2 separate regions of the Homo sapiens genome follow, and region 2 is linked to region 1. The links come from fine-mapping of genetic effects on gene expression. Tissue or cell type: whole blood. Region 1 holds a variant in brackets; the other region holds the start of a gene. All regions are shown on one strand. Distances are between the middles of the regions.

Region 1 (8,104 bases):
AGCGGCTGCATGGACACGCAGGTGTGCGGGTGTGAGGCCGTGACCTCAAGGCTCTCACGGGAGTGAGACGCTTATAGTGAAGTCAATGAGGGCCAGGAAAGAGGTCGAGGGGAGGCAGCATGAAGGGGTCTGAGGGTGTGAGAGGAGGGGTGGAAGGAGGGCAAGCGAACTCGTTGGGGGTCTGGTGCCTGGACATGGGTGGAGAGGGCCGCAGTGGAGGTTTTCTCAACATGCACCCTTCTGTCATCTCCGTGTTCAGGGGACGCTGGGCATGCCCAGTGCTGGCCTGAGGAAAGCCCCTCCTCATCACAAGGCCAGTTACCTTTTTCTGTGTGTTCTATGATCTGACGAATTGCTTTCTTCAGGCTGTTGGCTCTCAGCATGAGCTGTTCTCGAGGCCGGAATATCTGCGGCCGGGCCGGGCAAGCTGATGCCACCAAGCGGTCTCCGGTGGAACCGCAGATGCTGCCCGACCCATCTCCATCTTCAGCCTCCTCGGCAATGGTGGGGGGCGGGTTGGGCAGAGAGGACGAGGCCTGGGACTCATCGTCCAAGGTCTTGAGAAGGGAATCCAGCTTCTCTTTCAGGACAGAGCACTGAACAAGGAAAGGAAATGGCATGCAGAGCTGAGGCAGGAGAACAGGGTCTGCAGGCAGGGAACCTCAGGCCATTTCACCCAGACTTCCTAGAACTCGATCAAAAGGAAAATCCTAACTCTCCACGCCTAAGTAACAAAAAGACCAGAGGCTACTCCCTTTGCAAATCCCCACCTTTCCCGCCCTGGCAGGTGGGAAATTGGGGAAATTGGCTGTCCACAACCAACCATACTGATTGCGAGCTGAGTCTTAGTCTGCATAGAAATGCAACTTTGTAACTTCACCTTAGCCTCTGATTGGTTGCTTTTTGCAACCAATCAGATGTTTGCACAGGAGTGTGACCTTTGTAACCACTTCAGCCTCTGGTTGGCTGCTTTCTGCCACCAATCAGACTGAATGCAAGCTACCACTTCATTTACATGAGGTGAGCATGAAGTGGCCAATGGGATACTTCTAGGGGGTATTTGGACCCAAGAAGATTCTGTGTCTGGACCCTTGAGCCGCTGCTCGGGCAGCTCCCACAGTGTGGAGTGTACTTTCATTTTCAATAAATCCCTGCCTTCGTTCTTTGTTGCTTCATTCTTGTCTTCCTTTACTGTGCGTTTTGTCTAATTCTTTGTTCAAATCACCAAGAACCTGGACAACCTGCAGTCACGGCCCTCTGCTGGTGACAGAGCAAGCTTCTCGCTGCCTCAATGCCCCTCCCACCCAGGGCACGGGAACAGACCTTCTTGGCCATGACCTCTGACTCCTCCGAGCTCTCGGTCGTCTTCTCATAGGCCTTCCCCACCCGTGCCACGAAGTCCTTCACCGTCTCACAGAGCACTCTGTGGGGAGAAAAACAGAAAGACCCTTCTAGAGAGGCAGCTCCAGGCTGGGGGCCAGGGCACCATGCCCTCCCCAGGGCCACCAGGCACTCACTTGGCCGAGGAGATGACCACCGAGTGCTGGTCCGAGGTGAGGATTTTAGAAAGGTGGGCTGCAACCGAGTCTTCATAGAAGAGAATCTGCTGTACCTGCAATCACCCCAAATGGCCAGGACTGTTGGTCTCTGTGACAGCAAGCTCCATGACAGTCCCAGTGACTCTGTCAGCCACTTCCTTGCCAGCACAAGCTGGGAAAGATGAGTCTCTCCTAACAGACACTGTCTGACCCAGCCAAGCCTCAACTCACTTCTAACGCTAATCTGGGACTCACCTAGTGCTAGGTGAGAGATTTTAAAAGCTTCGTCAAGCTGCAGGCAAACTGCAAATGAATCTCCTTCAGTCTGCGATCCCAGCACGGCCTGTGCTAGGAGCTTCCGTCCTGACCCCTACTCATCCTGACAGCGGCATGCTGGCGGGTCGGCTCCAGGTTTGGGTCCGTTTGCAGCAGAGGCTGTTTCCACCTGGCTGTGAGCCCCATCTGGACACACACTCCTGCCCCCACCATCTGTTCTGGCTGTCAGAAGGGCAGCCCTATCCCTGTGGGATCCCTGCTGTCCTTAGGACCCAGCCCCAGGGTCGCAAACTTCACTACTGGCCAGACAGCGAATATTCTGGGCTTCCCCCACACACTCTTCCTCTCAAAAAAAAAATTTTTTTTTAAAAAAAGGAAAAATAAAAAATGTACAAACCAGTCTTCGCTTGCAAGGCCGTGGGCCCAGGCACATCTGGCCTGCAGGCCTTGTTTGCTGACCGTTGCCCTAGCCCCTGACAAAAGCTCACCTCTTTGTACTACCCCACCCAGCACTGCACCAGCACAAAATAGAAACTAAAGACAAAGTCTGTTCTCTGAGGGAAACTGTAGGAGCGTTAAACACAACAGTAACAATCACCAAATGAAAAGAACCACCAGCTGGACTAGAGGAGCCTGAGCGAAGGGCAGCTGCAGACGCCACAGAGAGGTGGGACGGGGCAGGAGCCGGGGGGCTAGGGGAGAGCCGCGGCAGAGCCGGCTAGAGCATTCCAGGCACGTGGGCACCGCGGCGGGGGAGGGAACGGGCGCGCACCGTTTGGGGCTCACTGCGCAGCTGAGGAGATGCACGGACAGGGTGGAAAGGCCATTAGGAGGACCACCCCACCACCCGGCAGGGCCTATGACAACCCCAGGAAGCCCCTAGAGGGTCACAAAGCCCAAAAGGCCCCTGCCAAGGGGAGTGAGAATCCTCTCAGCCATGGGTTCACCCTGCGCCTCCGCAGGCCTGACTGTGACACCCCAACACCAAAGGGGAGGCGTCTCTGCAAGGGAGGTGATGCAAACCGCTGACAGGACAGTTCTGATCACATCAGCATGCGAGCAGGGTGTGAAGAACAGGCCAGCAATACCTCGGAATCCTCGCTGAAGTCTTCGGTGACGGTAGAGGAGGAGGCCTGCCGGGGGAGCTTGGCCTCGTATGCCATGACGCTCCACCTGCACACACAAGGTCAGCTGCACAGGCGGCAAGACGTGCAGGCCCACAAGGGTGAACCCTGCGCCGTCCGCTTTCACGGCTGGCAGCCTTGATCTTTACACCGTTTCTGACTTCATTTTTAGGCCCTTGGTCTTGACTCTGTCCCATAACTTGGCTGAGAACAAATGTCTGCACTCCACAACTAACGGCAGTACAGCTCCATAAAGAGAGGAAGGTCTCCCATAAATGGCTACCTTGAGATAAGATGCTGCTTCTGGGAGAAATGGATTTACCCTCCTCAAGAGAGCTGCAAATGGCTCAGCCAGCTGGCCCAGTGAGATGAGCATTTCACAGGCCCCAAGGCACACAGAGGAGGCCTGAAATGGTGGGGGCATTGCAAAACCACAACTGTGCTCAGAACTCCAGGCTTCTGGGAGCAACTAGGAAGGCTAGGAGGCATCTCATCAGCACCCCATGTGCCACAGGCATGTGGTCAGTGAGTGCCAAGTGTGTCACTCGGGACAACAGTACCTTACTCAGGGAAGGTGTCACAGTGGCTTTAGGCACTAGAGGATAATTTCCCAAAACTTCTTCTGGGAACAGAATATGAGAAAATGAAACTGTTCAAGTAAACGACAAGGAGCATTCTTCCGATGGGTATTAGATCTCGGGCTGAAGCAGCCAAAGATGGCACAGCTGCCTTCTCCACGGCCCTGACACACTCAGGCTTGGCCTTCTGGGAAGACTGGATCATCCTAGGGCATGGCTGGTTCTTAACCTGTTTTGTTTTTATCCTTGTCATAATCTGACCAAATATCAAAGACTATCCGAATATATACTCAGGTCAAATCTTTACAAATAATTTCAGAGGGCCCATGTTTTCCACAGACCCCAGGTTAAGAACACCTGGTCAAAGGGACCTGTCTCTCAAAGTCTCCTCATACGGCACCGGAGCACATCCCCACTCACCTGTCCAGCATCTTGGTGCTGGCTCTCTCCAACTTCTCCAAGATCTGGGGGAGCTGGGTGTCGTCATCGCAGGCTGAGCCCCAGCCCAGTACTCGGGCCAAGTCGTTCCCTGTGCCGAGCGGCAGCACTCCCAGCTGACACTAAGGAAACATGGGGGACGATG[C/T]GCAGGCAAACACCTGGGGGCAGGGGCCACTTCCCAGCCCGCAGCCCTCCTTGTCCCCCACCGTGAGGGTTACGTTAGCAATGTGGGGACGTGACCTAAAACCACGCAGCTTACACATTACAGGCAGAGCCCACTGGAGGGGACAGATGGCATTTTCCTTGGCAATGAGACAGAAACATGACTGCCCTTGAGATAAGATGCTGCTTCTGGGAGAAATGGATGAGCCACAGGTCCATCTCTCAGCTGTCATCACATCTTGATGGTCAGCCCCTCACACCCTCTCTGATCTGTCTCCCAAATCCCTCTGCTTCCCATTTTCACCACCGTGACCACAGCCCCAAGGAATCACTCTGATGCCTCGCCACCCGTCCCTCCATCCACTACAGCATCTCACTCACTAATGCCAAATTCTTCTTCCAAAAACATCACTAGTATCACTTCTCTCCTCTAAATCCTATCCAAAAAAGGTGCCAGGACCATCCTCAGTCTGGAGGCTACCCTGGAGCCTTGCCAGAGCTCAGCCTCTGCCCGCCTGCCTGCTGTTCCAGGAAGAGACCTCATGCATTACTCAGGCCTCACCCTCCACCTGGATTCCCATTTCAGAGCTCCAATGAGATCCCACTACACCATTCCATTGCTTAGGAGGCCTCTTAAAATGCCCACTGCCCAGAGCTCACCAGCCTTTGACTCTGACAACAGAGTGACCAGGGCCATGAAGGCTGCGGTGGAGTGTGTGGGGAGGCGTTACTGTCCTTGAGGCAGGAAACCTGCCGTGGTCCAGCCTACAGCACCGTACAGCCCTCTGCCCACCAGGTGGAGGTGACCATGCTTGAGGCCCTGCCGCCTGTGGGGACAGCAAACACCAGGGAAGGTCCTGCCTCACCAAGGGGACATTTGGCAGTAGGGGAGGCAGGAGCGAGCAGGCCAGGACACCGGAGCCGACACACTAGATGGAGAGAACCCAGTGCTGAAGGGTGCCCAGAGGGTCTGAGGACTCCGCGAGGGCTTCCTGGAGCCTTAAAGGAAAAGGAGAGCAGCGCACAGCAGGCATGGATGGTGCTCCAGGCAGGGAGACACCACTGGGAGGGGGCAAGGCAGAGCTCAGTGAAGAGGAGGACAGCGAGGAAACAGGAGGCAGACAGGCAGAGAAGCAAGCAGGAGGCAAAGCTGGGACTCTTAAAGGTCTGGACTTTTCCCAGAAGCATCGTGCTTGGGGGGTGCACAGGCAGAAATGCCCCGGGAAAGGTCGCCTGGGTGAGCTGCAGATGGACAGAGGCCAGGGTACTGTGGGTGGCAGGACTGAGGACACAATTAGTGAGAAACAGGCAGGAGGAAGAGACGGACGAACCAAGAACAACTGTCCGATTTCCTGGCTCAGACATCTAGATGGATGATGTTTTCAGACTCGAAGGAAAGGAACGCAGGGTGGGGGCTGAACGTGGTGTAGTGTTGGAAACTCGAGGCACTAGGAGACATCCAGAGAGGCCCAAGGCTCAGCTATCAATTGAGGCGCCCCCAGGAGAGAGACGACAGCAGAAGCCCTGCAAGTCGCTGAGCGTTCAAAAGCGAAGGAGGAGAGGCCCCAGCAAGGCTCTGAGGACACAGCGTTAAGGGAAGGGTAAGGAGGGAGAGGCCACCATGGAGCAGTAGCAGCCAGGAAGACAAGAAACCCCGAGGCGGCAGGGGCCCAGCGAAGGCATGGCCACCACATCAGGTGTCAAAGAGACGCAGGGGAGAGAAATGTGTGCTGACCTTGGCTGAACGTATGAAAATCAGCCACAAGGTTCCACTGTCTTCCTAACTAGTGACAGTGAACTTGCAAGTAATACACAAAATCAAAAATTAGAGTAGTCTATGCTAATCCACCAGCAGGCGGCACCACTTCTCCTCCTGAGCCACTGGCCTCACGGCCCGAGCTGTCAAATCCACCCACCTGGAAATACTACCAAGTGAGCAGAGCTGGGTAGGCACCACAGAATCACTGAAAAATACATCCACGTCACACAGAAGACTGAATTTTTTAAAAATGGGGCCATAATAAACATAAGAAAATACAGATGCAAATCTTAATCTTGGGGTGTAGGCAGCTGCAAATATGACAGACGTTGACAAAAATCATGAAAGAAAAGACCACCCCCCAAAAAGGATGTTGAACTGACAAACGACAAACCGGGAAAAAAATATCTGCAGTGACAGATAAGAAGTTAATGTAACAATAATCCTCACACACCCATTTTTAAAGGAAAAAAAGGTGAATACTCAAAGAGAAAATGAGGCAAAAAAAAATATGAACAGGTGATTTATTTAAAACTTCATAACCAACTGAGGAGGCGTTCAACTTCACCAGGAATTAAAGAAGTAAAGGTCAGACATTTTTTGGTCTACTTAGCTGGACAAAAACTAAAGAGATGAACAGCTTGGATGGTGCACGGGGAAAGACAGCTTTAAAGGCATCAGGCATGGAAGCTGGCACAGCCCTGAGGAAAGGCAGTTTGTCAGCACATTTCAATACTTAAGCTTGGGTGCGCTCAGAGAGGAGACCACTGGGAAGTGATCTCCGTGCTCACACATGGAGGTGAGCTGGCCCTGGGCTCCCGGGTGTGTCCAGTGGAAAACGACACACAGATGCCTACTTACAGACACAGGCACAAGGTGTCTGCAACATCTTAATTAGTGGTTTTTTAAAAGCAGTAACAGGCCGGGCGCGGTGGCTCATGCCTGTAATCCCAGCACTTTGGGAGGCCAAGGTGGGCGGATCATGAGGTCAAGAGATCGAGACCATCCTGGCCAACATGGAGAAACCCTGTCTCTACTAAAAATACAAAAATTAGCTGGGCGTGGTAGCGTGCGCCTGTAATCCCAGCTATTTAGGAGGCTGAGGCAGGAGAATCACTTGAACCGGGGAGGCAGAGGTTGTAGTGAGCCGAGATCGCACCACTGCACTCCAGCCCAGCAACAGAGCAAGACTCCACCTCAAAAAAACAAAAACAAAAACAACAACAACAAAAGCAGTAACAGAATAGCCCGTTTAAATTACAAGTGCACTGTGCATTGTATGTACTGTGATCAAGAGAGGTCAGAGACAGCAAAATGTTGGCACTGGCTGATCACCTGGGGAGGCCGTGGCTTGGTGTGGAAATTAAATGACTATATGAACATTTTTATACACAATCAGGAAAATCTATTTTTATTTTAATACAAAAAACTAAGTCCAATGAACCATGACTCTGACTTGAGAAACTCAAGTATACTGCCGTCCCCTTCTCACAAGCAAGAGGCCTCAAGACAAAAATTACCCAGTAAAGCAACAGCCCCACCCAGCCCTGCTCCCCATGTGGGTCCTTTGTGGGCAATTCTTTTCGTAGCTCCCTTCAGGTCCCCCTCATACATCATGGCCAGAGCCCCCGGGCCTCCACAATGCCAGGGGGTGGCCCAGGCTCTCCCCTCTCTGCCCTGGCCACCAAACTGCACACTCCCCAAAACCACCAATGGTTTCTGGCCTGAGAACAGGTGCTCCGAGATGAACAGGAGCTGAGACTGCATGATTTCCCTCTAACCTCCGCACCCTCTCTGCTCCTGGCTGGGCTCCCTCCTGTCCTGGTACCTGTTTATGAAGGTTGAGGCTGTCGATTTCGGAGAGGACCCAGCCAACACTTCCATCCCCGCCACAAACCAGAATCCGGAATGTGTCAAACTTCTGGAATAACCGTAAGCTGCAGAGAAAAGAGAAAGGCCGTGAAATGACATCCATTCCACAGGACAAATGACAGGCTTGTCAGTACGGGGCTGAGGGGCCACCTGTGCTCCTCATGGCTGACCTGCACCAGAGGCAGAGCACGCACAGGCCCTGCCACGTGACACCAGCCGCCTCCACTCAGGGTCCACTTTGTCAAAGGGACGACAGCAGCACTGGGGTCCAGCCAACTGCTCCCACCAGCCACGCCCCACCCAGCGACAAGACCACTCAGCTTGGTGAGCCACTGCACGCTCTGCAGACATCACAGG
Region 2 (8,104 bases), 90 kb after region 1:
CCCTGTCCACAATCGCATGCTTCATAACTAGAAGCGCAGGGTCTGAAGTGACTTCATCTGACACCAAAGTTTAGACTTTGAAATCCGACAATAAAATGGCATTAAAAACCTTTTACATTACTTCATCCCTACTAGGATGGCTAGTATCAAAAGAGAGATAATAACAGTTACTGACAAGGATGTGGAAAAATTGGAACCCTCCTCATACACAGCTGGTGGGAATGTAAAATGTTACGGCAGCTTTTTAGCTGGAAAATAGTCCGGTAGTATTACCATATGGCCCAGCACTTCCACTCCTAGGTGTATAGCCAAGATAAATGAAAACCTATGTCCACACAAAAACATGTGCATGAATGTTCACAGCAGCATTATCCAGAATAGCCAAAAAGTAGAAATAACCCAAATGTCCATCAACTGATAAATGGATAAATAAAATACAGTGTGCCTGTAGAATGGAATATTACCCAGCAACAGAAAGAAATGAAGTACCGATACATGCCATGACATGGATGAACCTTAAAAATATTATGCTAAGTTAAAGAAGCCAGACCACATATTGTATGATTCCATTTATGTAAAATGACCAGAATCAGCAAACACAGAGACAGAAAGTAGATTCTTGTTGCCTATGGTTGAGGGAGTTGAGAGGAAACGGGGTGATGAAAATGTTCTAAAATTGACTGTGGTGATGGTTGCAAAACAGCGAATATACTAACAACCACTGAACTGTATCCCATGTGAATTATATCTCATAAAACTGCGGTGCATTTTTTTAAGTTTTTTACAACTTAAACCCTTTACCTAATTTTTACTAGTCTTCATTTCACAATGGAAAAAATGCTTTGTTTAAATTTAAAATCAGGAATCCAAGCACTTTCATGCTCATATCCAAAAAATGTTAACTTTCTAGAAACTTTTAAATAAATTAAACTCTTTTAACTGATAGCTTTGCAGAATTACACGGTTCTTCACTGAAATTTCAAAATACCTTATAATGTGCTGGTGAATGTGCTGGTCGGAGTGTTAGCTCCATTTTCTTTCTTTCCATTCTAGCTATGCAGTTCTACAGAGTCATTACTGTGTACTGTAGTCAGGAAATACAAATGAAGTAATGTCTTTGCTGTGGACAGCTTCAACTCTAAAGAGCTCGAACATATTAAAAAATCAGACATGCATGAAATGCTAAACTGATAAATGGCCATCACAAATCTGCACACATCAAATTTTCAATATGCTAAAGATCTATAACCTGAAGAATTATTTGAAGTTTGGAGAGGCTTCTCTTTACATGTGTGCCATAAGGTCTTGTTTTTCAAAGTCTGGTCCATGGACCAGCAGCATCAGCATCTTCTGGGAGCTTGTTAGAAATGCATATTCTGCCAGGTGCATTGGCTCAAGCTTATAATCCCAGCACTTTGGGAGGCTGAGGTGGGTGTATTACTTGAGCTCAGGAGTTTGAGACCAGCCTGGGGAACATGGGGAAACTCCATCTCTACAACAAAATACAAAAATTAGCCAGCATGGTGGCATTTGCCTGTAGTCCCAGCTACTTGGGAGGCTGAGGCAGGAAAATCACTTAAGCCCAGGAGGCAAAGGTTGCCGTAGCTGAGATCGCACCACTGCACTCCAGCCTGGGTGACAAAGTGAGACCTTGTCTCAAAAAAAAAAAAAAAAAAGAAAGAAAGAAAGAAAAAGAAATGCACATTCTAAGGCCCCACCCACCCTAGACCTACTCAACCATAATCATCATTTTAACAGGATCCCTAGGAGATGTGTCTGCACATTAAAATTTGAGGAGCACTGCCCTAAGACATTCTCTTTTGTTTTTCTCTTCATTAAGACAGCTCTGACTTGCACTAGACTAATATTTTAAAAGCCTGACATACATACAGTTCTGGTCCTGGGCCAGCTTGTCCTCAGATCCATTCTTTGTCCTTCTGCTCCAGTCCAAGTTGTGGAGGAGGTGACCCCAGCAAGGCCAGGGTTCCCAGGCAGGAGGGGAACAGTACATCCGCAGCAGCAGCTGTGCCCTTGCAAGGCTCCAGCCACTGCCAGATGGACCCCTTGTGACCCCAGTTTTTGGTGGGTGACAGCTGTCCCTGGAGTCTGAAATGCCATCTCCTTCCTTCACCCTCCAACTTAGGGGTGGCAGCAGTTTCCTGCTTGTTGCCTCATCTCCGGCTTGCCTCATTGCAGCCTGCATTCTCAGTTCTCACATCACCTGTGTGACCACTCCCCTAGATTACATTCCTTCTGTTCCAAATACTTAAGGTGAGTTCTGTTTTTCTTTTTAGACTCAGACTGCTACCCCATACCATTTTTGATGTTTCTATTATGTACCATAGATACCAGAGGAATTTTGTGAATGGCTTATCTGCTGGAAAAAAAAAAAATGGAGCTATTACATACAGTCAACCTCGCATTCCCACATTCTGACAATCTCTTAACAACTCAGAAGAAAAATCAGCCTTAAGCTATCTGTACAGCAGATGTGACTGTATTCAGAAACTCTAAGTCCTCGGGGTGTATTTTTAACAGTCTACCCATCACTCCTCCTCAACCAGAACAGCTGGTATAGCAGCTATTGTTTTAGGAGAAAAAAGAAGGAAAGCAAAAACACCTCCTAACCAACAAAATTCTAAACACTGGAATCTCCCAGGAATCAAATCTCTCTCAACACAATCTTGATCTTAATCAACCTTGTAAATCACATGATCTACCCCACACTGGTCAGTACCTTGCCTGGGCAACAGGAGAAAGCAACTCCTATCAGTATCATTTAGGGCTATGTGGAGATCTTCCCAAAAGCACATCTGATCCATCACCCCCATACTTTGAACAATCCTCTGTGGCCACCTCTTGCCCAAGGCCAAAAAGCAAACCCCTCAAAGGACCACCCCTTCGAAATTCAGCCCTAACCAACCCTTCCAACTAATAAGTCTAATCAACGTGATCCACCTCTGGCCCAACTTCTGATCATTTCGCAGTTGTGCCTAAAGCTCTAGACGCAAGGTTCAAATATGTAGAAGGCCATTTCTTACCCACTTAGCCTGGTGAATTCTTTATCCCTCAAGATCTCACCTTAAAGGAAACCACTCCTGCCTCCCCAGGGCAGGTCTCTGCCCCGAGTTTCCGCGGCACTTACAATGTTGTCATGTCAGGTGCACAGGCGTCCATCTCCCAACTAGACTGAGAATCCCTAGGTGTAGAAACTGCCTTCCATCTTACGGTCCTGACCATGGTTCCAACACACATCCACATTTACGACCTGTGACACCCTGGGCAAGTCATTTAACCTTGATTCTATTTCTATTCCAATTCCAAAAGACGGAGATGATAGCATCCAACTTATTGGGTTCTCACCAGTACTAATAAACTAACCATGTCAAGTGCTGTAAAGCTAACCCAAGAAAGTGCCTGGCACATAGAAGGCTTATTAAAGAATTGTTATTTGCTATTGCTATCATTATCATCACTACTGCTACTGTTATACCCGGAACAAAGCAGGTGTTCGGTACCTATTTGCTGAATAACTGGAGCACTTCACAACAAACCTGTTTGTAACATGTTAGGACCTCAGGTTCCCCCATCGCAGGTATCAAAGGCTGACAGAAGAGAAGGCTCCCACGGTGAAGGGAACGGCTGAACCTAATCCGCCCCGGAGGAAAAGCGCACTGCAGCAGGAGGAGAAAGTCCGTGCCAACCGGATCTGCCAGAGCTGCCCCAGGGACCCAGCCTGCTCGCAGCCACCTGTCCAGCCACCTGCCTGAGGAAGCAGTGTTCTAACCGGGCGGGCTCACCTGGAGCAAAAACCGTAAGCTGTTTTCAATAGGAAGCACAATGGGAAAACAAACGGTGCAACTTTCCTCCTGCAAAAAGGACGTGCGTCTTTATCTAACATTTAGCGTCAGGAGTTCTCCGTGGAGAGTTGGGTGCCAAGCGGGTGCGCGGTCCCGGCTTTGCTGAGAGAGACGGTCACTGAACGCGCATCCCTTCCTTCCCTTTTGGGATGAAGGGGTGAAGGGGTGATCCCTCGCACCCGGGTCCGAGCGGACTTCTGAGGGCACCACAGGGAAGTCTGCAGGGCACTCGCGGGACACCACCCGACCGCTCCTGAGAAACGTGCAGAACCGGGGTTTGGGGACCGCGGACGCCCGCGGGGCGCAGCCGGGAGCCCCCGCGTGGGACCCGCTCGGTGGCACGAGCGCAGTCCCCTGCATCTAGGCCTCAGTTTCCTCCGGGTCCTCGCGGCCCAACTCGGCGCGCGCCCCCCGCCCAGCGCGCGGCGCCCGGGGCGCCCACCTGCGCGCCCCCCGCCCGGCCCCACAGCCGCCCGCCGTCCGTCGGGGGCCGCGCGCTCCGCCCGGGGCGCCGGCCCGTTACAGCGGCGGGGCACGCTCGACAGGGGCGGTGACGCCCGCGGGACCCCGGGCCGGGCCGAGCCGGGCCTGGGCGGCCGCTCGGGCAGGGCCACGGGCCTCGGCCGGGGCTGCCGCGGCGTGAGGGGCGCGCGCCCGGGCCGCCGCGCCGCGGGCTCACCTTCTGTCGGATCTGACCCGACGTGGACACCTTGCGGATGAGCTTCTGTGGGGAGCCGGGCTCCGCCTCGGGCTCGCTGTCGGACGACTCCTCGGGCGGCGGCGGCGGAGGCGGTTGCGGGGGACCCGGCGGAGGGGCGCCCGCCGCCGCCGCCATGCTGCCGGGCCAGCGCGCGCACCGCGGGCGGGGGCGGGGCGGGGCCGGCGGGAGGGGCGGGGCCGAGGGCGGGCCGGGCCGGGGGCGGTGGGGGCGGCCTCCCGCCTCTCCCCGCCGCGCCCCCTGCCGGCCATGCGCGCAGCTGCAGACGGCGCCGCGCGGCCCCTCCCCGCCCCCACCTGAAGCGTCCCGGGCCCCCCGCCCACCTCTCCGGGCCGTGGCTTCTGTGTGTTATTTCTGGAACGCCGTTTGTGTTCTTGTTTCTATATTCACTTCTTAAAACATCTCTACTCTTCCGCATCAGAATGTAGGTAACCTCAGGCAGGCTGGGGCTGTGTCTGTCCTGCCCAGCCTTGTGTGGCCGAGTTTGGGGCGAGCTCGAATGCGCGCGCGCGTGCTGGAAAGAGACCCCGGTACTGGGACGGGCCTCGGGACGCCAGAGCTGGGATGCACCGCTCCATCTGGGAAGGCTTCCTGGAGAAAACGGTTCTTAAGGAGAGATGGAAAATGTGAGCAGGAGTTGTGACTAGAGAGGGAACCATGTTCTAGGCAGAGACCAGATTTGTGCAAAGGCCTGGAGGCAAGAAAGAACGAGTGTTGGGCGAAGACGGGGGAAGAAAGGGAAGCTGGTGCTTAGAGCAAGGAAAATGGCATTAAGATATGAGCCTCGGGGCGGGCAGGTCGAAGCGGGCTTTGGAAACCAGATAAGGGGATGGAAGGCAGCAGGAAGCCCTTGAGGGATTTAACCCTGGGCGGGGCTGGGTCACCACGCTGGGGCCTGTGATCCGGGCTTTGAAGTTATCAGGGCAGGTGGACGCCCTGGATTACCGAGGGGCTGAGAGATAGAGACGTGGACTGAGATCCAGGTGGGGAGTGACCAGCGACTGGAGGGAGACAGAGGTGACCAGAACGAGTCCCATGTTTCCCAGGGGGGCTGCTGGATGGTGGGCGGGTGGGGTCCAGCGCTGCTCTGGGCAGAAGAGGAGGAAGCGAAGCTGGAGATGAGATCAGCTAAGTTTTTGGTGCCATCCAGGTGGAGCAGGGCTTGGTGCCACCCAGAGGAAATGCTGTCCATCTGTCTGCCCTGCTCTGAGGGGCAAATCAGTAAGGGACTGCCCAGGTGTGCCCTCTCCCTGTCAAAGGGCTGCCGCTAGAGACCTCGCCTGCCAATAGGCATTCGCTGGCCGCGCCGCCCTGGGCAGTGACCTGGGGCTGCAGAGTGGCATCTGGCATGGGGACACGGCCAGGGGCATGGGCTCACGGCCAGGACAGAGGAGGACAAGGCCTAAGGCAGGAACAGTCCGGGACAGGCCGAAGGCCCCATGGTGCCCCAGGGTACTATAGCCACTAGCCACATGTGGCTACTTAAATTTCAATTAGTTAGAATTCAGCATTCCGTTCCTCAGCCACAGGAGCCACATTTCAGGGACTCAGTAGCCGCATGTGGCTTAGCAGCTGCCACGCTGGATAGCACAAATATAAAACACTTCCCCCGTCCCCCCAGAAAGTTCTGCAGCACAGTCGCATGCTGAACTGTGTCCTCCCGTAATTCATATGTTGAAGTCCTAACCCCCAGTACCTCAGCATGTGACTGCATTTGGAGTTAAGGTTTTTAAAAAGGTAATGAAGTTAAAATGAGGTCACAGGGGTGATCCCTAATCCGGTATGACTGGCGTCCTCATAAAAAGAGGAGATGAGGACACAGACACACACAGAGGGCAGCCCATGTGAAGACACAGGGAGAAGATGGCATCTACAAGCCAAGGAGAAAGGCCTCCGATGGAACTCCCCCTGCCGACACCGTGATCTCGCACTTCCAGCCACCAGAACCGAGAGCGTCAATTCCTGTGGTGGAAGCCGCCCGGCCTATGGTGCAGTGCTCTGGCAGCCCTAGGGAACTCATGCAGGCACAAAGGGCTCCAGCCTCCCCACAGGGTTGGGACTTTTCTATCAATTAACTACATGTGGAGTGATACACAGAGGCAAAACCCTGGAGGAGTGTGCAAGGCGGAGGAGGGGCGGGGACGCACAGGGGAAGAAACAGTTCATTCCTTCATTCCGCGGGGGAGCCGGGTGACCTGAGCAGGGTTTGGGATTGGAATGGAGAGGTCAGATATGAAGGGAGTTTCCCAGGAAAACGCAAAAACGGGGAGACTACCCCTACCAGGTGAGCAGAGCGGGTGACGAGGGATTTTGGTGAAGCCGGTAGCAAGGCGGGTGCGGGAGGCAGGGAGGTGAGCAGCGGCGCCAGGATGCAGAGTAGCCTCCCGGCCCTGCTCTGAGGCAAGGACTTCAGTCCCGTGGGCACTGGAGCTGGCAAGGGGGTTTGGGAAAGCAGAGGAACTCATGTGTCTGGGCAGAGAATGATCCATAGGAGAGAAGACTAGAAATAGGGAGGCCATTAAAATGCTGTTGCCGGCCGGGCGCGGTGGCTCACGCCTGTAATCCCAGCACTTTGGGAGGCTGAGGCAGGCGGATCACGAGGTCAGGAGATCGAGACCATCCTGGCTAACACGGTGAAACCACGTCTCTACTAAAAATACAAAAAATTAGCCTGGCGTGGTGGCGGGCGCTTGTAGTTCCAGCTACTCGGGAGGCTGAGGCAGGAGAATCACTTGAACCCCGGAGACAGAGGTTGCAGTGAGCCGAGATTGTGTCACTGCACTCCAGCCTGGGCAACAGAGCGAGACTCCGTCTCAAAAATAATAATAATAATAATAATAATAATAAATGCTGTTGCCTACACCTGTTAGGAGCTCAGGGGACATCCAGGCCCCAGAACTCATCATTTTAGAGTCAAGGAGGCAAGGGCATGAACGTGACGGTTAAGAAGCAGAAACCGTGGCTGGAGAGGAGGAAATCTGCAATTACCAGAAAGTACTGAGATTGTCACAGACAAGAGGAGCCAAGGAGACATGATGACTAAACGTCACGTGGGTTCCTAGATGGGATCCCAGAACAGAAAAAGGACATTAGGTAAAAGCTGAGGACATCAGAATTAAGTATGGGGCTTTAGTTTAATAATAATGCATCAATATTGATTCCCGGGTAGGAGGAGGGTGAGGATTGAAGAACTACCTATCGGGGATTATTGTGCTGATTACTTGGGTGACAAAAGTATCTATCTGTACACCAAACCGCCATGACATGCAATTTACCCATGTAAAAAACCTGCACATGTACCCCCTGGACCTAAAATAAAAGTTGGAAAGAAATAAGTATATTTTACTGGAAACAACATTTGAGTCACTCAGTGTGGCAAATGTACCCTACTCATGTAAGGGTTAATAATAGGGGGTTTTGGGTGTGGGGGACCTCAGTATAACATCTTTGCAACTTTTCTGTAGATCTAAAACTACTCAAAATAAAAAGTGTATTTTAAAAAAAGAGGATTAGGCTTGGTAAGAAT

What was found. PIP is the estimated chance that this variant, and not a neighbour inherited with it, causes the effect.
Region 2: it holds the start of DGKD, and the variant in region 1 is fine-mapped to the expression of DGKD in whole blood (TOPMed, PIP 0.99).

The regions. Positions count from the first base shown.
Region 1 is chr2:233,441,595-233,449,698 of GRCh38, reverse strand. DGKD (diacylglycerol kinase delta) reads right to left here. Exons shown (of 30, transcript NM_152879.3): 10 at 7,704-7,812; 11 at 3,937-4,076; 12 at 2,903-2,987; 13 at 1,518-1,612; 14 at 1,324-1,423; 15 at 323-596. Among named protein-coding and RNA genes, the nearest start is that of DGKD, 91 kb to the right of the region's middle. RefSeq lists enhancers at 5,941-5,990, 6,011-6,120. The variant C/T (reference allele first, on the strand shown) is at 4,100.
Region 2 is chr2:233,351,110-233,359,213 of GRCh38, reverse strand. DGKD (diacylglycerol kinase delta) reads right to left here and starts at 4,720. Exons shown (of 30, transcript NM_152879.3): 1 at 4,540-4,720. The coding sequence starts at 4,695. RefSeq lists a silencer at 4,531-4,770 and enhancers at 5,021-5,070, 5,211-5,270.